Linked DNA regions of Homo sapiens. The protein of the gene in region 6 binds, or shares a complex with, the protein of the main gene of each other region. Each region holds a gene or a part of one and is shown on either strand. Other genes may lie near its edges. The genes, in order: SART1, PRPF6, SNRPD3, SNRNP40, LSM7, TXNL4A and SNRPD1.

Region 1 (3,500 bases), on a different chromosome or scaffold from region 6:
GCCCCGGCAGGCACAGGGCCCCCCACATCCCCAAGGGCACCCACCGCCTCCTCGTCCAGCTTCTTCATCCGCCGCTCTGTCTTCATCTTGCCTGAGCCCTTGCCATGGAAGCGGTGCGACAGCTGCCGGAAAGCCTGGGGACGCGGGGCATGAGAGGAGATGCAGGGCCCTGGGTGGGGCCGGAGCCACCTGTGCCCACAAGGTGTATAATAACAGGGCGGGTGTTGATTGACCCCAATGCCAGGCCTGGGGTGCAGTGGGAAGGGGATGGGAAAAGAGCACAGACGCTGGCACCCTGCAGGGCCCCAGCAGAGGCCGGGAGACCAGCTTGGCTAGTGGATGCGCTGCCATGGGGGCAGAGCATGGGGAACCTGGAGACCTGCCACGCAGGGGCTGGGCCTGGACGCTGGGGCTGGGGCTGGGGCTGCAGGGAGACAAACCCCAGAGAGCAAGGGGGCAGCTGAGTGGTAGGGCAGGACGGTCGGGCGGCCTACGAGAGTGCTGGAAGGGCCTGGACGCTGGAATGGCCCTGCGGGCCAGGAAAGCCAGTGAAGGGCTCACGCAGGTGAGGACAGGAGGGCAGAGGTCCCGAGTGCCTGTCTGACCCTCCTGCCAGGCTTGCAAAGAGACTGCTGTGCCCACTAGAGACAAACTGAGGCACAGCCTTCCTCAGCCCTGAGGGCCCCCTCCCCATCCGTGGCATTCACCAGGCCCCCAGCCAGAGGCTGGTGGAGCCAGGACCCTGGGGCATTGCATGGCCCGGGGCATTGCATGGCCCTGGGCTTGGCCTCCCTGTGGCAGGCCGGGCCTCCGCCTGCAAAAGGCCCTGCTCACCTCCTTGGGTGTGAGTTTCCGGCCCGTCTCATCCACGTATTCGATCTTAACGTCGGGTTTGTAGCCGTCCTTCTCCTTGAAGTCCTGTGTGAAGCCTCGGTATTCCTCCCTCCGGCTGTACTTGTCATCGATGGCCCTGGCCCGAGACAGAGGAGGCCTTAGTGTGAGGAGCTGCCGCCTGCTGTGGTCCCGAAGCTCCAAGCTGGCACAGGCCCCTCAGCCCTGCACAGGCCCCACCACACTCACATCTTATCCTCGATGCAGTACACGGCTGAGGGCAGCGACTTGTTGGGGGCCTTCACCCGGGCCACCTTCTGCACTGTGGTCTCCAGCAGCCCTAGGGATGGAGGGGTTGTGAGACTCCCAACCCCTCGAGAGCCACAGCTCCAGGGCCGCCTGAGAAGGCAGAGCAGGCCCTGTGGGGGCACCTCCCTTTCCTTGCCTCTGGAAAGCCATCAGGCCTGTTCTACAGGCAAAGCAAAGATGCAGAAATGAGCCCCTTGCCAAGGGTCACTGGCCAGGGAAATGGCAGAGCTGGGGTCCTAACACCAGGGCTCTCTGTGCCACAGCTGGAACAGTTTCAACTCCCCTCTCCTTCCCCAAGCAGGTGTGGAGCCTCAAAGGCAGAGCAGACGGACAGATGCCACAGTGGAGGGGAAGGAGTGGCTCTGGGCCGGACAGCTGGCTCCAGCATTGGGACTGAGAGAAAGGGGCAGCAGAGGGGACCGGAGGGGGCCCTGCCTGCACCTGCAGCAGCACCCAAGCCCACCCAAGTCATGGCTGCCCTGAGCTCCCTACCTTTGTTCTGACACAGGAGCAGGGCAGCTGCCAGCCCCCTATTCACGATCGGTTCCTCGTCCAGGATGGTGGTGGAGGAAGCAGAGAACTACGGGACACGTGGCGGGGGTGGTTAGCAGGCCATACCGGCTCTTCTCAGCCCCACCCACTGGTCACCACCTGCCAGGCACCAGCCCTCCACAACATTTAATTTCCTCATTTACTCCTCAGATCGCCCTGGGAGGTCTGCAGAGCCCACTCTGGATGAGGAGGCTGAGGCTCTGGACACCGAGCCCGGTGCTCATCTCCAGCTTGAGCACCCCCAAACGCCCACCCCCCAGCGGCGCGGCCCTCACATCCTGCTGCTGCTTCTCCTCGTCCAGGTTCACCGTGCTCCAGCCGATGTTCTCCTCCCCGTCAGATTCGGAGCCACCGTTGGCTGAGCGCTCCTCATCCCGTTCAAAGTCCTGGGGCACAAAAGACCAGGGTCGGCCCAGGCCCCAGCCAGCCCACCCAGCCGAGGGAAGCAGAGGGCGGGGCCGCCCCAGACGCACCATGAGCTCCTCCTGCTCCTCGCGATTGCCAGCCAGCCCGTAGGTGGGGATCTCCCCCAAGGTGCGGCAGAACTCGGACGTGGCGTTGAACACGATGGCCCCCTTCCGCTCGGGATCCTCATCCTCCTCCCAGCCCCGCTGGCGAGACTCCAGCTTCTTCACAATCTCCACCACCTGGGGGAGGGAGCGGCTGTGGGCAAACCCAGCAGTTTCTGGGGTGATGCCATTGAGACCCAGGAACCTAAGGGTCCTCCCTGGCAGCAGCCAGACAGGCCACGCCCACAGCCCATGCAGGCCCAGCTGCTATCTGCCGCCTAACTCCACTCTGCACCTCTTTCACTGGGGTCACTCTTCTGCTCCAAACCCATCAATGGGTTTGGATGCCCTTTGAATGAATACCCAACATCCTACAGGGCCTTCCTGACCAGGCCTGTGCCAATCCCCCTCCAAAGCCCCTCACACACTACCTCAGCCTCAAACTCCTTCCTCCAGGCTCCCTCCTGCCACCTGCCCCTCCCCCGACAAACTCCGGTTTCAGGACTCTAGACAGCACTTCTAGAACCCGCAGGGTGGTGAGGTGGCCCACGCTTTTGACTTCCCACAGCCCAGCTTCTCGCTTCCTGCTTCACCAAGAAAGCAGGTTCCGTGACATGGGAAGAGAACTCACTCATGCTGCCAGCACTGAATCCAGCGACCCCCACACGGGCACCAGCACCCTCTGCTTTCCCTCCTGTCGCAGATGCCCAGCCACACACAATGATTACCATCTCCCCTCTTTAAAAAACTTCTCCCTCAACCCTGCAGCCCAGACAGCAAAGTCCTCACTCCTCAGTGAAGGTTCGAGTCACTATGTCCACTTCTGCACCCCTCTTTCATTTTATATTACATTCATTTTTTTAAAAAAATCTTCTGAGGCGGGTGGACTGCTTGAGTTCCGGAGATCGAGACCAGCCTGGGCAACATACCCAAATCCCATCTCTACAAAAAACATAAAAATTAGACATTGTGGTCACACACGCCCATAGTCCCAGCTACTGGGGAGGCTGAGGTGGGAGTACTGCTTGAGCTTGGGAGATCAAGGCTGCCAAGATCACACCACTGCACTCAAAAGAGTGGGCAAGAGTGAAACCCCGTCTCGAAAAAAAAAAAAAAAAAAAATTCTTCCAGGGGCCGGGTGGTTGCTCACATCTATAATCCTAGCACTTTGGGAGGCCGAGGCTGGAGGATCACTTGAGCCCAGGAGTTCGAGACCAGCCTGGACAATAAGGTGAAGCACAGTCTCTACAAAAAACACAAAGATCAACCAGGCATGGTGGTGTATGCCTGTAGTCTCAG
Region 2 (3,500 bases), on a different chromosome or scaffold from region 6:
GGAGCGACGGCAGCCGAGGATCGGGGAAGCCCACCCTGCTGCCGGGCATCTTTACAATGACCAGGAAGAGGCAGACAGACTCTGGAAAAAGAGCCCATTAGGACCCCGAGGTTCAGCAATCCTGTGGGGGCCCCACTCACTTGGCCACGGCCAGGAGCACATGGGGGTCATGCTCACACTTCTTCAGGGCATCCACGCTCTTGGTCCTCCTCTGGGGCCTTGCCTCGAGGAAGATGGCCTCAGACCACAGGATACCTATAATTCAGAAACAAAGAACAAAGATTTGCACTCCAGCCTCTGGTTCCGGAAAGGTGCCCAGCCTACAGATTCTAACCCGGGACGTCCTCAGACCACGACAGGGGCCTCCCACACACGGCTCGCAGAACTTGTGCAAGGAGAACCACAAAGGATGAGCACTCTGGCCCACCCAAAACCATGGCAGCCCTGAGGGCACAGACTGGACACCCTGCAGAGTCTCACTCTGTCATTCAGGGTGGAGTGCAATGGCGCAATCTCAGCTCACTGCAACCTCCCACTCCCGGGCTCAAGCAATTCTCCTGCCTCAGCCTCCCGAGTAGCTGGGATTACAGGCGCCCGCCACCATGCCCAGCTCATTTTTGTATTTTAGTAGAGACGGGGTTTCACCATGTTGGCCAGGCTGGTCTCAAGCAATGGACTCCTGGACTCAAGCAATCCTCCCGCCTCAGTCTCTCAAAGTGCTGAGATTACAGGCATGAGCCACCACACCTGGCCAATTTCTTTTAAATTTTAAAAGAAAAAGAAATGATAACACTTCAGAAATGAAATCAAATTCTCCCATTTTGAGGCCAAGAATTTCATTAAGTTGTCTTAACGGCCGAGTATAGCTGAAACTTTTGACTGAAATGATTCACACAAACTACACATTTTAATAAAGTCCGTCTGAAGCCTGAGCCCCCACTCCCTCAGGAAGTGCCAGCCCTGCGGAGTCTGGGAAGCCAGGAAGCACCCCCTTACCGGAGTCAAGGCACCCCCTTACCGGAGTCAGGGCACCCCCTTACCGGAGTCGGGGCACCCCCTTACCGGAGTTGGGGCACTCCTGCAGCGCCTTGGCCATGAGTGTATTTGCGATGTTCTTCAGCCCCGCACGGTACTCCAGCCGCACGGACTCCAACCTGAGGAGACAGGCCCCCGGAGGTCCCACAGCCGTCTACCAACAGCACATATTCTGGTAGCTTCTGGGAAGCCTTGTCTGAAAGGGCTCTCCACCCAGTCACAGCAGCAAAAACTCCATTCCCTCCACAGCAGAGCTCATCCACCACAGAAACAAGGCGCTGGGGCCCACATCCCTGCCAGCCCCACTGGCAACCGCCCCAAGGCAAGACCTCAGATCCTGACGCTGTCCAGATGCAGGTGAAGGCATCCAGAACAAACAAGACCAGACTGGGAGAGCCAGGGCCGCACAAGGCACCCAGAAGCTGCCTGTCTGCGGCAGTGCCTGCACAGTGCTCCAGCCCCGTCACCCTGAGCTGGACGCAGCACCTCCATGAACAGAGCCTGCACCTAGCAGGCTCCTGTCCACCTCCAGGGCTCTCCACGCCACCTCCTCTGTGGAGCTGGCTCTCCGGGGTCCATCCTTCCCTCGTCCCAGCCATCATTAACCCCTCCCTCTCCCAGGCGCCCTCCATCAGAACACAAATTAAACTGCATCAAACCATCTACAGGCCTGTCACAGTACCTAGGCCGAACTCTCCTAAGGCAGGGACCGTGATTTTTCATGGCCAGCACCTACCGCCCCCCAAGCCCCTGAGCCTGGAAGCACTGCACGAGTGACTCCACACAAGCAGCTGGGTGACGGCGGCCCACCTGATGGGGAAGCTGTGCCCAGAGGCCAGGCTGCCCCCTCCAGGACTCACCACAGCCCAGGGTTCTTTGGGTTCTTCAGACGAGACTTTTCCAAAATGGCCCGTGCTCGAGTAAGCTGCCCAATCTTCTCCTCCAGCCGAGAGAGCAAAAGCCACAGGGGTGTGGAGTGGGGACACTTCTTCAACTGCAACCAACAAGTAAGAGAGCAGCTCAGGTGGTGTCTATGAAGAACTGGGACACAGCCATGCCCAGCTTCTCATCTGCAGTGGGTGACCGAGTCCCTCAGGGCTGCCATGTCCATGGAAAAACACCCCTCACACTCTGCATTTGTGGGTGTACAGGTGTGCGGTGGTGCTGTGGACCTGTGCACACAGGTCTGTACGTACCAGCCTTTACTGCAGGTGTGCCACACTCTGCACTTCTGAGCAGTGTGTGCAGCTTCATATAAGGAAAAGCACAGAACTCAGCGAGGGGACCAGGGTTTGGGTCCTGAGTCTGCAGCTCCATCAGCTGTAACCCCCAGCCCTCCACATCTCCTCAGAGGCGAAGGGCAATGACCCTGCACCAGGGGGCTCAGTTTTGTGAATGCCGGGTCAGCTGCAGCCCCAGGGTGCAGGCAGAGACGTACCCCCTGGTTATAGGCTTCCCGCGCCTTCTCCATCATCTCCTTCTGCTCCTCGATCTGCCCCTTCATCATCCACAGCTTGGGGAAGTCCTCATAGTGCCGCAGGGCCTCCTCGCACAGATCTTGGGCTGCCCTGATGTTGTCTTGCACCCACTCCAGCTTCACAGACTTCATGAACACCTGTGGGGCAGACATGCACTGTCACGCAGGGCATCAGCTCCAGGGTACGTGCTTCATGGTACACTCATCCTCAACACTGTTACCTGCAGTACTGTGTGTACTTTTGTAAGCTTTTCATAGCCTGTTTGTGTACACAAAAGGTGGGGATAAATATATGTTTTTGTTTTGTTTTGTTTTTTTTTGAGATAGAGTCTCGCTCTGTCACCCAGGCTGGAGTGCAGTGGCACGATCTCGGCTCACTGCAAGCTCCACCTGCTGGGTTCACACCATTCTCCTGCCTCAGCCTCCCAAGTAGCTGGAACTACAGGTGCAAGCCACCACACCCAGCTAATTTTGTATTTTTAGCAGAGTTGGTCAGGCTGGTGTCGAACTCCTGATCTCACAATCTACCTGCCTTGGCCTCCCAAAGTGCTGGGATTACAGGCGTGAGCCACCACACCCGGCCGTATGAACATGTTTGTTGTTGTTGTTGTTGCTGAGACAGTTTCCCTCTTGCTGCCCAGGCTGGAGTGCAGTGGCGCGATCTCAGCTCACCGCAACCTCCACCCCCGGGGTTCAAGCGATTCTCCTGCCTCAGCCTCCCGAGCAGCTGGGATTACAGGCACGCACCACCACGCCCGGCTAATTTTGTATTTTTAGTAGAGACGGGGTTTCTCCATGTTGGTCAGGCTGGTCTCAAACTCCCACCCTCAGGTGATCTGTCCGCCTTGGCCTCCCAAAGTGCTGAGATTACAGGCGTGAGCCACCGCGCCCGGCCACCACGCCCGGCCACATGAATGTTTTAGTCACATCACAAAGATGAGTGTGCTGTGGTCTCGTTTGCCTGCCGTCATCTCACTCCCATCACCAC
Region 3 (3,500 bases), on a different chromosome or scaffold from region 6:
GTTGTGAGAGCAGAGGAAAAACACAGTTTGACTTTTTTCCTCACACACATATAAAACATGTACAGCAGCTAAAGATACCAATGAAGAATCCAGTGCCTTCCTTGGCTGCAAACCTTTTTTACCAACACTAAGACAGTTTCCAAGGGCCACAATTACTTTGTTGTCTAATCAACATGACAGAACTTTCATGAACCTAAATATAAAACCAAATTAGGCTAACCAAGAAGCAAGACCAGACTAGGGGACTGCGAAAAGGACAGTCCCACTTTTGGAATGTACTAAAAGGTGGCTTTATTTCTGAAAACGGAGCTCCACTATCAGACCTCCCTAAGTACATGCTGGTGTCCATCCATAAGACCCAGTCTCGCTAGGAAATGCTGCCCTCACACTCGAGTCAGCTCATCTGCTCCGGGCTGTGTCTGCTCGGCAAACTAGACAAGGGCAAGCGATCCCACACCTCTCACACAGAACTTCTAGAAAAGATGGGCCTCTCCAGGTGCGGTGGCTCACACTGGTAATCCCAGCATTTCAGGGGGCCGAGGCAGGTGGATCATGTGAGGTCAGGACTTCAAGACCAGCCTGACCAACATGGTGAAATCCCATCTCTACTAAAAATACAAAAATAAATAAATAAAATAAAAATAAGCCGGGCGCAGTGGCTCACGCCTGTAATCCCAGCACTTTGGGAGGCTGAGGCAGGTGGATCACAAGGTCATGAGTTCAAGACCAGCCTAGCCAAGGTGGTGAAACCCCGTTTCTACTAAAAATACAAAAAGTAGCCCGGCGCAGTGGCGGGTGCCTGTAATCCCAGCTACTTAGGAGTCTGAGGCAGAGAACTGCTTGAACCCGGGAGGCGGAGGTTGCAGTGAGCCGAGATCACGCCACTGCACTCCAGCCTGGGCGACAGAGCGAGACTCCATCTCAAAAAAATAAAAAAATTAAAAAAAATTAAAAATAAAATAAAAATAAAAATAAATTAAAAATAAAAAAATTAGCTAGGCAGGGCAGTGCGCACTGTAATCTCAGCTACTTGAAAGGCTGAGGCAGGAGAATTGCTTGAACCTGGGAGGCAGAGGTTGCAGTGAGCTGAGATCACACCATCGCACTCCAGCCTGGGTGACAAAGCGAGACTCTGTCTCAAAAAAATAAAATAATGGCCTCACAGGATCACTCCACGCTGCAAGGGGAAGGGGTGGCAGTGGGTGGTGGGTGTGGAGAGAGCAGAGGTCAAACCCTCTCTGTCTCCAGGCAGTAATAGGGCCCCTTTCTACAAGACACAAGACAAACCTATATTTTAAAACCTGTGCATGAAAAGCACCTACCTTGGGCCTTGAGAATAGCAGCTTTTCCTCGGCCAGCCCCTGAGCCTTGGTTTTTATTTTTCATGCTCTTTAACATGGGTGCGTTCTTCAGCATGTCAGGCAAAATCAGAAAGCGGATTTTGCTGCCACGGATGTATACCTGCTCCAGCTGTGCCACTCGGCCATCTCTGTATGTGACTGTGATGTTGGACATCTGGAAGGAAATCACCAGCTAATAAGTTAACGGTCAACAGCACCAGCGGTGGGGAGGGCCTTGACTGGTGGGAGGGGGAAGTCCAGAAAAGCAGACTGACATTGTGACAAAGCTGGTGAATTACCCAGCAATCATCGGTACTAACTGTGTACACCAGGGACTGCACTGAGCACTTTACCTAAACAGTCCTCACAACACCTTCAGCGTGGGTATGAGTGCTCCCCCCCTTTTTTTTTTGAGATGGAGTTTCACTCTTGTTGCCCAGGCTGAAGTGCAATGGTGCAATCTCGGCTAACCGTGACCTCTGCCTCCCGGGTTCAAGCGATTCTCCTGCCTCAGCCTCCTGAGTAGCTGGGATTACAGGCATGCGCCACCATGCCCGGCTAATTTTGTATTTTTAGTAGAGGTGGGGTTTCACCAGGTTGGACAGGCTGGTCTCGAACTCCTGACCTCAGGTGATCTGCCCGCTTCAGCCTCCCAAAGTGTTGGGATTACAGGTGTGAGCCACTGCGCCCAGCCGAGTGCTCCCATCTTTACATGTTAAAAAAACCAAAGCAGTTATCCCAGGTCAAACAGCTGGAATGCAGGGAACTCCAGATTCGAACCAGCTGGCCTAGCTTCAGAGCCCTGGCTGTGCTGCACTGCCTGCTGAGCAAAGATGTGAAGAGCTCTTGAAGGTGCTAAACCCTAACGAAAACAGCTTCAAACTGCTGGTCCAAACTGTCTTCCCCTGCACTGCCTGGCACTCAGATTTCAAAGGCACCATGAAGGTCACAAGTATATACCAGATGTGGTTCTGACCCTCCAGAGTGCATACTCTAGAAGGTGAGACAGAACCCTCTAGGTTGAGTGACTAGGGACTGAGAAATGGAGGTGGTACCACAAGGCCTGTAAAAAGGGCCTGAAATTACTGGAGGGTTATGAGGCAAGAGCTTGCACAAGGAAAAGAGCAGGCACTTGGGCAGGAGCCTACAGGATGTGAGGACCAGAGCAGTCGAATAATGACACTGGACGGGGTCGTTACTTCAGATAAAGGAGTCAGTCAAGTTTGTCGATAGAGGAAAGATCAATAGGGTTAAGGCAGCACTCAGGAAAGATAAATGTGGCAACAAGGATAGACTGCAGGATGGACAAATGGGGAGCCTGAAGGTGAGACCAGCTTGGCATGGGAGGGTGATACCAATCTGCCAGCATCAACCTCAACAAGCACCACATTTACAGAAAAAGCAGCTTATTGTATGAACCTTCTGAAGAGAGAGAACTATAATTTATTTAGAATGGGTCAGCCCTTATTGTAGAAAGATGTGCTGTCTCTGCAGATTTCTGTCTGGCTAGCTGCCATCTTATACTCATTCATTCTTTTCCTCAAGTGCTAACTGGCCACCCAGCCTCTGCTTGAACACTCAGAAAAGAACAACTATGGGCCAGGTGTGGTGGCTCATGTCTGTAATATCAACACTTTGGGAGGTCAAGGTGGGAGGATCACTTGAGCCCAGGAGTTTGAGACCAGCCTGGGCAACACAGTGAGACCTCATCTCTACAAAAATTAGCTGGGTGTGGTGGCATGTGCCTGTAGTCCAGCTACTCGGGAAGCTGAGGTGAAAGGATCACTTGGTTCTGGGAGGTCGAGGCTGCAGGGAGCTGTGATGGAGCCACTGCACCCTAGCCTGGGCCACAGAGCAAGATCCTCTCAAAAATAAAACAAACAAAACTATGCTCTGGGGCCGCCCCTGTTGTATATGAGCAGTTTCTAGAGGAATGGTTTCTAGAGCTTCTACCCACTATCCCTGTTCTACCTTCAGGGGCAACAGGGCTCCAGTTTCTCATAAACCTTCTGCTCCAGGCTCCTCACTCCCAGCCTGTTATTAAATTTTCATCCAGTTCCCAAGTCCTTACCAATCCTTTTCTTCCCCTGAAGAATACCATAACCTCTAGTGCCACAAATGAACGCCAGGTTTATGGTCAGACTACCCAAGACAGAAACT
Region 4 (3,500 bases), on a different chromosome or scaffold from region 6:
GTAAAGATAAATACTGTTTTGTATTTTCCTTTTTTGCTTAATAGCTTATTATGTAAATATTTTTACATTTGGTCTTCTGAGTTATTTTTAGGAACTGCTTAACAATAGCTACACATTATTGAGGACCTGTCTTGTGCCCGGCATATGCTAAGCATTCTTATAATCCTTACAACAGCCGTAAGAAGTAGCTATTGTTATCCCTAATCTTACAGACCAGGAAACAGGCCCAGAAAGAATTAGTGACCCAATGACACATAACTCTAAGTGGCAAGGAACAGTTTATTCTTACCCTAAGTCACCACTCTTTCTACTCTGTCATGCTATCTCCTGTATGAGAATTCAGTTTTGCAATGTGCTTATGAACCATAATTTAATAAACCACCTATTTTTCCTGCTTGACGTTTAGGTTATTTTCTGTATCTTACGTTTCCTATACAAGCAATAGTGAACCTGTAATTTATTTTTATTTTAATAAATGTGCTTTTCCATAGTGTATGTGCATGTACATATCCATACATGTACATATATATACATTTATTGTCACATATTGTTACATTAAAAGAAAAATTTTAAGCATCTGTATTTTTCATATTGTTACACAAACATGTAATCATAATGCCTTTTTTAAATGACATGTTCGTTTTATGTATTTATAATAATTTTTAATGGCTAAGAATCATAGCCATTTTTAGTTTTTTTCTATAATAGTTTTTCTTTGCTATGATTTGAAAATAACCTTTCTGAATTCTATTTTTTTGTGTGTAAAACTTTATCTTAACATTTGATATGCATTCGTTTATATTTATCTAGTCAAACGTGGTAGCCTGAGCTACCTTTTTAGAAAGACAGAGATTGGCCAGGCATAGTGGCTCATGCGTGTTAATCCAAATACTGAGAGGATGAGGTGGGAGGATTGCTTGAGCTCGGGAGTTCAAGACTAGCCTGGGCAACATGGTGAAACCTGTCTCTTCAGAAAAATTAGCTGGGTATAGTAGCATGCTCCTGTAGTCCCAGCTACTGGGGAGGCTTAGATGGGAGAATCACCTGAGCCCGGGAAGTCAAGGCTACAGCGAGCCATGATAGTGCCACTGCACTGGGCAACAGAGTGAGACGCTGTCTCAAAAAAAAAATGAAAATTAAAAAAAGGTGTTTTTCTCTTTGACAGAAATCCTGTGTTTTATAGTAGAGTAATATCAGTGTCTCTGGGCAATTGACTCTTGTCTCTTGTGTCATTCTCTTTCTCTGCTTTTATTAATTTGATTTCTGGGGGCACCTTTCTGTTTTTGCAGGTCTGGGACCTGCGCCAGAACAAGCTAACCTACACCATGAGAGGCCATGCAGATTCAGTGACTGGCCTGAGTTTAAGTTCTGAAGGCTCTTATCTTTTGTCCAATGCAATGGACAATACAGGTAACTTTGGAAAGGAAATCTCTCCCAGGATCCAAGGAAAAAGTCAAAGATTGCTCACAGATTCCATCAGACGATTAGAATGTGTTGTAATGGGGAAAGCTTTAGGTGAGATAGTCAAGAATCTAGGACTGTAGTCTCAGATCTCTGTCTTGTCCCTGAACAACTTTGCACACAGCATTTCTTCTCTCTAGGCATCAGTTTCTACATTGATAAGAAGATTGGACTTTACCTTTAAGACCCATCTCAGCTCTGGTATGCTGTGTATCCAACAGGATATTAGAAACTCTAGGTGATGAGTTTAATGAAAAAGATGTGAATCTAGAAGTCTATTCAAGGCAGTTCTTGTGCGTTTTCAGAGAGCACCAAGCTTGGATGATCTCTTCTGCTCTTTCCTGCCAGTCTGTCTTCCCTCCCCACTCTGAAAGCATTGGTGTGGGAAGAGGTCTTCATTAAAACATTCTGGATTTACACGAACACACTCTTGCTCTTTCTCTTTACTTGTTTTTGAGTTGTAGGGTGGGAGGATGGGTTACTACAGAAAAAAAGTAAGGTGACTTGCTGGATTATATGCTTAATGTTGAGGGAGTTTGGAAATGGCCCTGGTATACAAAATTATAGGCTTGTCAGGAACTAAAATGTATTCCCTGACATTTTGTAACAAAAACAATACCTGACATTCATTGGGTACTTAATAAATATTTGTTGAATTAATGGACATCTTTACCTTTTAACTATATTCTCAATGGCAAACTTTCACGCATAGCTTTGCCTTTTTATGCCTGTCTGACTCCAAGGATTGATAATACTTTTTTCATACTCAAATAAAATGACATCACTGAAATTCCACTATAGGTATAGCTTCAGTTACAACGGCTATAGCTACTGCTTACAATAGATGTTTATACACATTTAATCTAGCATTAAAAAAATATTTTTTCCTTAATTTTTTTGATAAGACAGGATCTTGCTGTGTTGCCCAGGCTGGTCTCAAACTCCTGGGCCCAGGCAAGCCTCCCAAGTACCATGCCTAGCTAATTCTAGCGTTCTTTATGAGGAACAATGAGGTTTCCTAGATTGATACTAAAATAAGGAAAAAATAATAGAATAATTTCTTGTGGCTGCATAATACAATTACAAATTCTTTATTTTTGTTTGTTGCCTACAAATTTTAGAACCTTTGCACATATATCATCTCATTGGATCTTTAAAATAGTGTTATTGGCTGGGCAGGGTAGATCACCTGAGGTCAGGAGTTTGAGACCAGCCTGGCCAATGTGGTGAAACCCCATCTCTACTAAAAATACAAAAATTAGCCAGGTGTGGTGGTGGGCACCTGTAATCCCAGCTACTTGGGAGGCTGAGGCAGGAGAATCACTTGAATCTGGGAGGCGGAGGTTGCAGTGAGCCGAGATCACGCCACTGCACTCCAGGCTAGGCAACAAGAGCGAAACTCCATCTCAATCATATCAGTCAATAATATTATTTTAAAAAGAAGACAGATAATTTTCTCTTCATTTTACAGAACAGAAAAACCAAGACACAAACAATCTCACTGTTTACCTGACATCACCCAAATATGTAACAGAGATAGAATCAATGTTTACTTTTTCTGATTTTTGGTATGGTACAGTGCTTTTTTGATTTATTTGACCTTTTATATATTTTATATATATCTGACCTTGTCCAGTCTTAGACTATCAGGTGCCCATATGAGGGAAATTAGGAAAGGGCGATGTAAGTTTGGCTTTTATAAGTTCATTGTCACAGTAGTTCCTGGTATTTAGTTTGTCACATTGAAGCTTTGCTGGATGTGACTAAGCTGGCAGAGAAATCTTGCAAAATATCTTTTTGAAATTAGTATCACACCCAACTGCATTCTGTTGCAAATTACCAACATTGTGTGTGACATTTTTCCTTCCTGCCCCCTCAGCTAGCCCCAGTTATTGGGATTTAGATGTGTTTTCCTGCTTGAAAAAGAAAAGAGCCTTAACAGGTAGCAGTATGTCAAGTTGGACTTTGCCCACCGAGGAAACAGCATCTGCCATTGATTGACATGATACTAATTTCAGCTGGGTGCCCAGGAGGCCTCT
Region 5 (2,283 bases), on a different chromosome or scaffold from region 6:
AGACAGGCAGGCAGAATAATGCCCGGGGTGCCTGCTTCCCGAGATTGGTGGTGCCTGCTTCCCGAGATTGGTGGTGCCTGCTTCCTGAGATTGGCGTGGGCGTGCAGAGGGCAGCACCGTAAGGGCTGTGGGTTGGTGTCTGGAGGAAGCACCTGAAAGATGACAGGGGTAAGAAGGAGAGCAGGGAGGGGGTGGCTGCGGGACGCCCCTCAGTGAGCGCAGAGGTGGAGCTGCTGCTGGGCCTCGGCTGCAGGAGCCTGCAGGGCAGTGGAGGGGAGTCCCAGGCAGAGAGGGTGGGCTGGCCTCTGCTGGGGACACACAGCTCCCCCTTCACCCTTCTCAGTGTCACCAGACACTGCGGAGCAGGATCAGATGGCAGAGATCACCACCGGGTCAGAGAGCCCTAACCTAAGTTGGCAAGTTGTGGCCCAAGGCGGCGAAGCTTGAGGGGTGGGGCAGGCAGCGTGGAGAGAGAAGCCACAGAGACCGTCTCAGCCCCCGAAGCCTTTGCACCTGGGTCTCAGAGCATCTCTGTTGCCTGCTCCCCGCAAGCCCTAAGCAGCAGGGCTGGGATTTGTTCTTTTGTATTCCGTGAACTCACTGAGGGACTCAGCACAGGTCAGGCAGCGCAGTCATCACCGCTGTCAGAGCGGAGCACTCTGTCTCCCCTACAGGAAGCCCTGTCCCCATCAGCCATCACTGCCTGTCCCATCCCTGGCCCTGGCACCCACGCATCCCTTCCCTGTCTTTGTGGATTGGCCTGTCCTGGACATTTCATAGAAATGGGATCTCACGGTGCGCAGCCTTCTGTGTCTGGCGTCTCTCACTGAGCGTGACGTCCTCAGGTGCGTCCTCAGGCGCATCCGCGCTGTGGCCTGCGCCAGCCTCGCTCCTCTTCCTGGCTGGTGGTCCCACCGCGTACACGTGCCGCCGCCTGTTTTGCTGCTGCTTTTGAGCTGAGAATTGTTTTTATGACTTTTAAATAGCTAGAAAGGGATCAAAACAAGACTGTCTCACGATGTGGAAATTACATGAAATTCACAGTTCAGTGCCTGTGAGTAGAGCTGACCGGCCGCAGTTCAGCCACACATGGACTCATTACCGAAGCTGCCTCCACCCAGGCAGCCCGAGCCAGCAGCTGTGACCGGCACCCTGTGGCCCACACGGCCAGAAGTGTTTGCCATCTGGCCCCCCGCAGACGTGGTCTGCTGCCTGTGGTGGAGATCACTCTGGAGGCGGCTGTCATCGGCCACTCCCGGGAGCCCTCTCCTACCCTCAGTCCTCCATCCCTGGAGCAGTTAGCCCCATACCTGGGCCATGCTGGGGCGGGCCCTGCGCCCAGGACGGATCTCATGCCTTCTCTTTTCTCTCCCCCGGTGATTTCTCCAAGCCAGTGGAATCCTGAAGGGCTTCGACCCACTCCTCAACCTTGTGCTGGACGGCACCATTGAGTACATGCGAGGTGAGTGGGGTGGCGGCCGAGGCAGGCAGCGGGACGAGGGGGATAGTGGGGTGAGGGGGGCAGCGGGACGAGGGGGGCAGTGGGACGAGGGGGGCAGCCGTGGGGCTCCCTGCTGGCTCTTCTTCTCTCAAACCCACAAAACCTCTGAGTTACCAACGTGAAGCCTCGTGGCGGCCGATGGACGGGCTTGAGCGCTCACTGGTCCTAGACGTCCTCACAAAGCAGGAAACCCCATTGTTGTGGGGCCTGGAGAGACGGGAGCTGCCAGCTCACCCACTGGTCTCTACACACTGACGGGGCGCCCGGCACAGTTAGAGGACAACCTTTTTAAATGTTTTATTATTTTAATTTTTGTTAAATTGGTGACGTGAGAGGCCAGGCACAATGGCTCACACCTATAATCCCAGCGCTTTGGGAGGCCAAGGCAGGAGGATCTCTTGAGGTCAGGAGTTTGAGACCAGCCTGACCAACATGGTGAAACCCCGTCTCCGCTAAAAATGCAAAAAAATTGCTGGGTGTGGTGGCGCATGCCTGTAATCCCAGCTGCTCGGGAGGCTGACGCAGGAGAATCGCTTGAACCTGGGAGGCGGAGGTTGCAGTGAGCCGAGATGGTGCAACTGCACTCCAGCCTGAGTAACAGAGTGAGACTCCGTCTCAAAAAAAAGAGATAAGCTGAGGTCTCACTGTGTTGCCCGGGCTGGTCTCGAACTCCTGGGCTCAAGCCATCCTCCTGCTTCAGCCTCCCACAGTGCTGGGGTTCCAGGCGTGAGCTGTGGCGCCCAGCGGAGAGCAGCCTTGCTGTGGGGTAGTGAGCGTGCCGT
Region 6 (3,500 bases):
AAGCAATCTGCCTGTCTCAGCCTTCCAAAGTGCTGGGATTACAGGCTTGAGACACCTGCACCCGGCCCATGTTTAACTTTTTGACGACCTGCCTGCCTGTGTTACCACTTTGCCACCAGCAGTGTGTGAGGGCTCCAATTTCTCCACATCCTTGCAAACGCTTGTTGCGATCTTTTTGTATCTAGCCGAACTTGTAGGTGTGAAGTGGCGTCTCACTGTGGTTTTGATTTGCACCTTCCTTAACAAGCAGTGATGCTGAGTGTCTCTTCGTGTGCTTCCTGGCCGTCTGTTTCACCTGCTCTGGAGAAATAGCAGGAGTGTAATACTGAGTGTCTGTTACATGCCAGGTACTCGAGGTCACATACACGTTCTCCCTAGCCCCTCATTCCGATACGCTGTTGCACTCTCCTACTTTATACATAGAAAAATCAGCACTTGGGAGATTAAACTGCAGATTTGCATTTGAATTTTAAATCCATTTAAAAAGCACACACTCATTTGTACTGTATGTAAAAAATGTGCTTCATTCTGTAAGTACCCTCCCGTTTCCACAACAGCAATCAATCTCCCGACAGCAGCGAGCCCTGTGCACCACTCCTGTGCCCGGCAGGCACCACGTGCTTCTGCGTCCACATCTGTGTGCAGGGCAGACACTATTATCCGCCTTTACCAAGGAGGAAACAAAGCTCAGAGAAGGTACCCTGCCCAAGGTCACTTGGTGGGGCAGAGCCTGGGTCTGAGGTCAGAGGGCCCACGGTGTGCTCAAGTGCCCCCATCCCTGCCCTTCCTCACTTTCACTTCAGAGCTCGAGTGTGCTGAGACGGGACACGAAGATCCCAACCAACCATCCACACTGCTAGGATGACAGAGGGCAAGAGAAACCTGAGACTGTAATAAGGACATTTTCTTTTCTTTTTTTGAGACGGAGTCTTGCTCTGTTGCCCAGGCTGGAGTGCAGTGGTGTGATCTCGGCTCACTGAAACCTCCACCTCCCGGGTTCAAGCAATTCTCCTGCCTCAGCCTTCCAAGTAGCTGGGATTACAGGCACGCGCCACCATGCCCAGCTAATTTTTGTATTTTTAGTAGAGACGGGATTTCACCATGTTGGCCAGGCTGGTCTCGAACACCTGACTTCGTGATCTGCCCACCTCGGCCTCCCAAAGTGCTGGGATTACAGGTGTGAGCCACCGTGCCTGGCCAATAAGGAAATTTTCTAACTATATGAACTGAAGGGCCATGGCTTCTACAGAAAATATGTTTACATCAAATACAATCTTGGGAAGAATAAAAAATAGCTCTCCTATTCCTTACAGGGAAGGCTATAAACAATATTTTATTGTACTGTTTTTATAACCAGAGTAAACCTTTGGATTCTGTCATGGATTGAATTGTGTAACCGCAAAATTTATATATTGAAGTCCTAACCCCCAGCACCTCAGACTGTGACTTTTGTGGACATAAGATCCTTGCAAATGTAATTAGTTAAGATTAGGCCATGCTGGAGCAGGGTGGGCCCCAATCCAACACAGCTGGTGTCACTACGAAAAGGGGAAATTTTGGACACCAGCACCCACACAGGGAGGACACAGGTGAAGGCAGAGATGGGGCGAAGTATCCACACACCAAGGAACTGAAAATACCACCAGCAGCCCCCAGAAGCCAGGGACAGGCCTGAGCAGATTCCCCTCACGGCCTCAGCAGTGACCCCCCACCCGCGACACCCTGATCTCAGACCCCCGCCTGCAAAGCTGTGAGAGCACACATCTCTGTTAAAGCCCAGCTCGCGGCATATGCTGTCACCGCAGCCCCAGCAAACCAACCCAGTATGCAAAACGCACAGGCTCACAGGATAAACACCTTCGTTTTACTCCAAGGGTAAGAATTAACTTTGACTAGGAAAATCAGTAATCTATTCATTAAGTTTCCTGAGAACAAACAAGTAGGCCTGCTCCTCTCACCACGTGCTTGTTTATTTCGGTGAGTTAAGACCATGTTATCAATTCCATCTCAGAGGTGCTCCAGCCCTGGAGCTTCCTGTATTTTCCAAAGGCTTTAAATAGCTTAAAACGTTTCCATACAAAAAGGGCTCCACGACATTTATCCGCGCAGACTGAGGGCGCCTCAGTAGCGGTACTTGGTGGAGTAGTCCTTGGGGGACACCACCAGGCCGCGGCCTTTGCGGGCCCCGCGGTACACCGTCTCGATGATGTCCACCATCTCCTGCTTGTCCTCCATGGCCCAGTTAATCTTGTTGTTGTTGCCAGTCCCCAAGTCAATCATGATGTGCTTGTTCCTGCAACGAGAAACAAGGGCATCCATTCTCATAGAAGTCTCTTTAAAAAAGAATTCCTTGAAAACAATGCCGTATTTTTCCCACTGTGACAAGCTCTTGTTAACATCACTGAAGAACGCATAAAATCGAGAGTGTATGCCATGATGCAGGAGAATACAGGAAGCAGCTAAATGTGTTTTTAAAGATGCAATGCATTGTCCACCATGCTCTTTCCTGCATTTTTCTGTATTTATTTAGGACAGTTATTCTAAGGGGAAATTAAAAGGTCAAAGGAGGGCAGGCGCAGTGGCTCATGCCTGTAATCCCAACTCTATGGGAGGCTGAGGCAGGAGGATCACTTGAGGCCCGGAGTCCGAGATCAACATGGATAACAAAATGAGACCCCCATCTAATTTGTACTAATTTACCTGATAAAAGCAATGTGTAAGTTTTTCACAGTGCTCTTATGAGCAATGACATAAATTGTATTAAAAGCCCTTCAACTATGAAATGAAGATGACATTTTGCATGTTTATGGTTAGGGAAGTAGATAATTCTTTACTTATCTTTCAAGAGACTAGTTCTTTTCCTCATGAATACTCATGTGCACTTTACAAGATAAGGATATTAACCCTTTGTTGTACTGGCATAAATTTATCCTGGTTTGTTGAAGTTTCTTTTTGAGATGGGGTCTCACTGTCATCTAGGCTAGGGCATAGTGGCAAAATCAACCTCCTGGCCCAAATGATCCTCCCACCTCAGCCCTCTAAGTAACTGGGACCACAGGCACGAGCCACCACACCCAGATAAATTTCTAGTTTTTTGTAAAGATGGGGTGTCCCCATGTTGGCCAGGCTGGTCTCAAACTCATGGCCTCAAGTGATCCTCCCACCTCGGCCTCCCAAAGTGCTGGGATTACAAACGTGAGCCACTGTGCCGGCCTGATTATTTTTCTTAGAGATGCGAGCTATGTTGCTAAGGCCGGACTCAAACCCCTAGCTCCAGTCCCACCCCGGCCTGCAGAGTGGCTGGGCTGCAGGCATACCCCACCTAAAGACTGTTTTTTAACGTTCACTTCCACAAGATCATGCATTTGGCTTCCACCTACTATTCCGTAGAAAGTATTCCCCGTGAAGTCTCTGGTTCAGGAGAGGCAAATCTGATCAGGGTCTGGAGCCCACCTCTGGCCGCCCTCTCATTCTCCATGCTGCAGGCAGGCCCTACATGC
Region 7 (2,354 bases), about 58 Mb from region 6:
TAGCCAGGCGTGGTGGTGGGTGCCTGTAGTCCCAGCTACTCGGGAGGCTGAGGCAGGAGAATGGCATGAACCCGGGAGGTGGAGCTTGCAGTGGACTGAGATTGCACCACTACACTCCAGCCTGGGTGACAGAGCAAGACTACGTCTCAAAAAAAAAAAATTTATCTTCCTTTTCAAAAGTACTCCTATTGGCTGGGCGCAGTGGCTCACACCTGTAATCTCAGCACTTTGGAAGCCTGAGGCAGGCAGATCGCTTGAGGTCTGGCATTAGAGACCAGCCTGGCCAAAATGGTGAAACCCTGTCTCTACTAAAAATACAAAGATTAGCTGGGTGTGGTGGTGCATGCCTGTAATCCCAGCTACTCGGGAGGCTGAGGCACGAGAATTGCTTGAACCCGGGACACAGAGGTTGCAGTGAGCCAAGATCGCACCACTGTACTCCAGCCTTGATGAAGGAGTGAGACTGTCTCAAAAAAAAAGAAAAGAAAAAAAAACGAAAAGAAAGTACTCCTCTTTATTTCACAGATCCACAAGAATTTCACATTAATAAAGGCCAGTATCAGATATACTTTTAATGCCTTTAGAAAATGTCTGCTGTTGGTTTATTATGACAGAGATTCTTCTTGTTATGGAGTTATTTTCTAGGTTAAGTCTTCAGGAACAAGAACTGTATGTTATTAAATGTTATATGTATGATATCTATTATAGGTAATACATGAATTGTTTGCTGACTACATTAATCTATTTCAAAATACTAAGTTATGCTCACATAATTATGATAGATTAAAAGAAACTGATATTTCATTTTCTATTCCTTCACTTTGGGTTTTCTATCTATATTCATAATACATTTCTTTAAAAACTAATGTTCGGCCGGACGCGGTGGCTCACGCCTGTAATCCCAGCACTTTGGGAGGCCGAGGCGGGCGAATCACGAGGTCAGGAGATTCAGACCATCCTGGCTAACACAGTGAAACCCCGTCTCTACTAAAAGTACAAAACATTAGCCGGGCATAGTGGTGGGCACCTGTAGTCTCAGCTACTCAGGAGGCTGAGGCAGGAGAATGGCGTGAACCCGGGAGGCAGAGTTTGCAGTGAGCCGAGATTGCACCACTGCACTCCAGCCTGGGTGACAGAGCTAGACTCTGTCTCAAAAAAAAAAAAAGAAAAGAAAAGAAAAGAAAAGAAAAGAAAAAAAACTAAAGTTCATATGTAACATCTCATTAAATATCAGATGTGTACAAAATGCTGCAGTCCTAAGATCCCATCTGCCTTTTAGGGGGTGGTGAAGAGGGGTCAAGAGAAGCATGTTAAACTCTAGTCTGTTTTCTATTCATACTATAATGCTTCCTTTATAGCAAATGATGGTAATCAGTTCAAATAGCTTTTTCTTCACCCAATTTTAGCCCTTTCACATGGAAATGAAATAATGACCTCTAGTGGAATAAACTCAATCTAGTACCCACTGTGATTTATTATTACATTTAAACTGTTACTAGACTGGCTTCACACTGCAAACATCCTAGACACAAAAACTCTCAAAACAAATTTTTTTTTTTTTTTTGAAACAGTCTCGCTCTGTCACTCAGGCTGAAGTGCAGTGGTGTGATCTCAGCTCACTGCAACCTCTGCCTCCAGGGTTCAAGTGATTCTCCTGCCTAAGCCTCCTGAGTAACTGAGATTACAGGCACCCGCCACCACACCAAGCTAATTTTTGTATTTTCAGTAGACAGGGTTTCACCATGTTACCCAGGCTGGTCTCGAACTCCTGACCTCAAGTGATTCGCCCATCTCGGCCTCCCAAAGTGCTGAGGTCACAGGCATGAGCCACCATGCCAGGACAAAACGTAATTTTAGATCTCTTATGCTAAGTGGCCATTTTCATTTAAATTTTAAATTTAAGAGCCAGGTCTCACTAGGTTACCCAGGCTGCTTGCAATCATAGCACGCTACAGCTTCAAATTCCCAGGCTATAGCGATCCTCTTGCCTTAGCCTCCCCAGTAGCAGGGACTACAAGTGTGCACCACGGCACTAAGCTCCAATTTTTATTTGTTATCTGCTTCTGTCTATAAGCTCCACGAGGACAGGAGCCAACTGTTTATTTCCTACTCTTGCAGGGTTTTGTTTGACCCCTTCAACAAATCTCTCCACTTGCTGCATTACAGGGGTCTCTTGCCTTTTGCCTTCTACTTGGATACAAGCAATAGGAGCACCAACAGGTCAGAAGATGGAAAAGAATGAAATCCAGTTATTTATTCCCCCAGCTTATTAATTAATGAAAGGTATAGGCCGGGGACGCACGGTGGCTCACGCCTGTAATCCCAGCACATTGGGAGGCCTCGTGCAGATCATG

The links.
Region 1: TXNL4A (region 6) and SART1 share a complex: the UniProt entries of both Homo sapiens proteins name them as parts of the U4/U6-U5 tri-snRNP complex.
Region 2: TXNL4A (region 6) and PRPF6 share a complex: the UniProt entries of both Homo sapiens proteins name them as parts of the U4/U6-U5 tri-snRNP complex.
Region 3: TXNL4A (region 6) and SNRPD3 share a complex: the UniProt entries of both Homo sapiens proteins name them as parts of the U4/U6-U5 tri-snRNP complex.
Region 4: TXNL4A (region 6) and SNRNP40 share a complex: the UniProt entries of both Homo sapiens proteins name them as parts of the U4/U6-U5 tri-snRNP complex.
Region 5: TXNL4A (region 6) and LSM7 share a complex: the UniProt entries of both Homo sapiens proteins name them as parts of the precatalytic spliceosome.
Region 7: TXNL4A (region 6) and SNRPD1 share a complex: the UniProt entries of both Homo sapiens proteins name them as parts of the U4/U6-U5 tri-snRNP complex.

The regions. Positions count from the first base shown.
Region 1 is NC_000011.10:65,975,234-65,978,733, reverse strand, and holds part of SART1 (U4/U6.U5 tri-snRNP-associated protein 1), read right to left. Parts: intron 2,356-3,500; coding exon of another isoform or gene 2,340-2,355; coding exon 2,166-2,339; intron 2,079-2,165; coding exon 1,968-2,078; intron 1,721-1,967; coding exon 1,633-1,720; intron 1,172-1,632; coding exon 1,081-1,171; intron 971-1,080; coding exon 835-970; intron 135-834; coding exon 45-134; intron 1-44. UniProt on the Homo sapiens protein: Plays a role in mRNA splicing as a component of the U4/U6-U5 tri-snRNP, one of the building blocks of the spliceosome. May also bind to DNA.
Region 2 is NC_000020.11:64,026,132-64,029,631, reverse strand, and holds part of PRPF6 (pre-mRNA-processing factor 6), read right to left. Parts: intron 2,651-3,500; coding exon 2,474-2,650; intron 2,030-2,473; coding exon 1,896-2,029; intron 1,155-1,895; coding exon 1,063-1,154; intron 256-1,062; coding exon 141-255; exon of another isoform or gene 1-140. UniProt on the Homo sapiens protein: Involved in pre-mRNA splicing as component of the U4/U6-U5 tri-snRNP complex, one of the building blocks of the spliceosome.
Region 3 is NC_000022.11:24,565,999-24,569,498, reverse strand, and holds part of SNRPD3 (small nuclear ribonucleoprotein Sm D3), read right to left. Parts: intron 1,516-3,500; coding exon 1,323-1,515; intron 1-1,322. UniProt on the Homo sapiens protein: Plays a role in pre-mRNA splicing as a core component of the spliceosomal U1, U2, U4 and U5 small nuclear ribonucleoproteins (snRNPs), the building blocks of the spliceosome.
Region 4 is NC_000001.11:31,269,289-31,272,788, reverse strand, and holds part of SNRNP40 (U5 small nuclear ribonucleoprotein 40 kDa protein), read left to right. Parts: intron 1-1,289; coding exon 1,290-1,410; intron 1,411-3,500. UniProt on the Homo sapiens protein: Required for pre-mRNA splicing as component of the activated spliceosome. Component of the U5 small nuclear ribonucleoprotein (snRNP) complex and the U4/U6-U5 tri-snRNP complex, building blocks of the spliceosome.
Region 5 is NC_000019.10:2,323,304-2,325,586, reverse strand, and holds part of LSM7 (U6 snRNA-associated Sm-like protein LSm7), read left to right. Parts: intron 1-1,390; coding exon 1,391-1,462; intron 1,463-2,283. UniProt on the Homo sapiens protein: Plays a role in pre-mRNA splicing as component of the U4/U6-U5 tri-snRNP complex that is involved in spliceosome assembly, and as component of the precatalytic spliceosome (spliceosome B complex).
Region 6 is NC_000018.10:79,971,564-79,975,063, forward strand, and holds part of TXNL4A (thioredoxin-like protein 4A), read right to left. Parts: intron 2,294-3,500; coding exon 2,122-2,293; 3' UTR 1-2,121. UniProt on the Homo sapiens protein: Plays a role in pre-mRNA splicing as component of the U5 snRNP and U4/U6-U5 tri-snRNP complexes that are involved in spliceosome assembly, and as component of the precatalytic spliceosome (spliceosome B complex).
Region 7 is NC_000018.10:21,631,667-21,634,020, reverse strand, and holds the end of SNRPD1 (small nuclear ribonucleoprotein Sm D1), read right to left. Parts: 3' UTR 501-2,354; downstream 1-500. UniProt on the Homo sapiens protein: Plays a role in pre-mRNA splicing as a core component of the spliceosomal U1, U2, U4 and U5 small nuclear ribonucleoproteins (snRNPs), the building blocks of the spliceosome.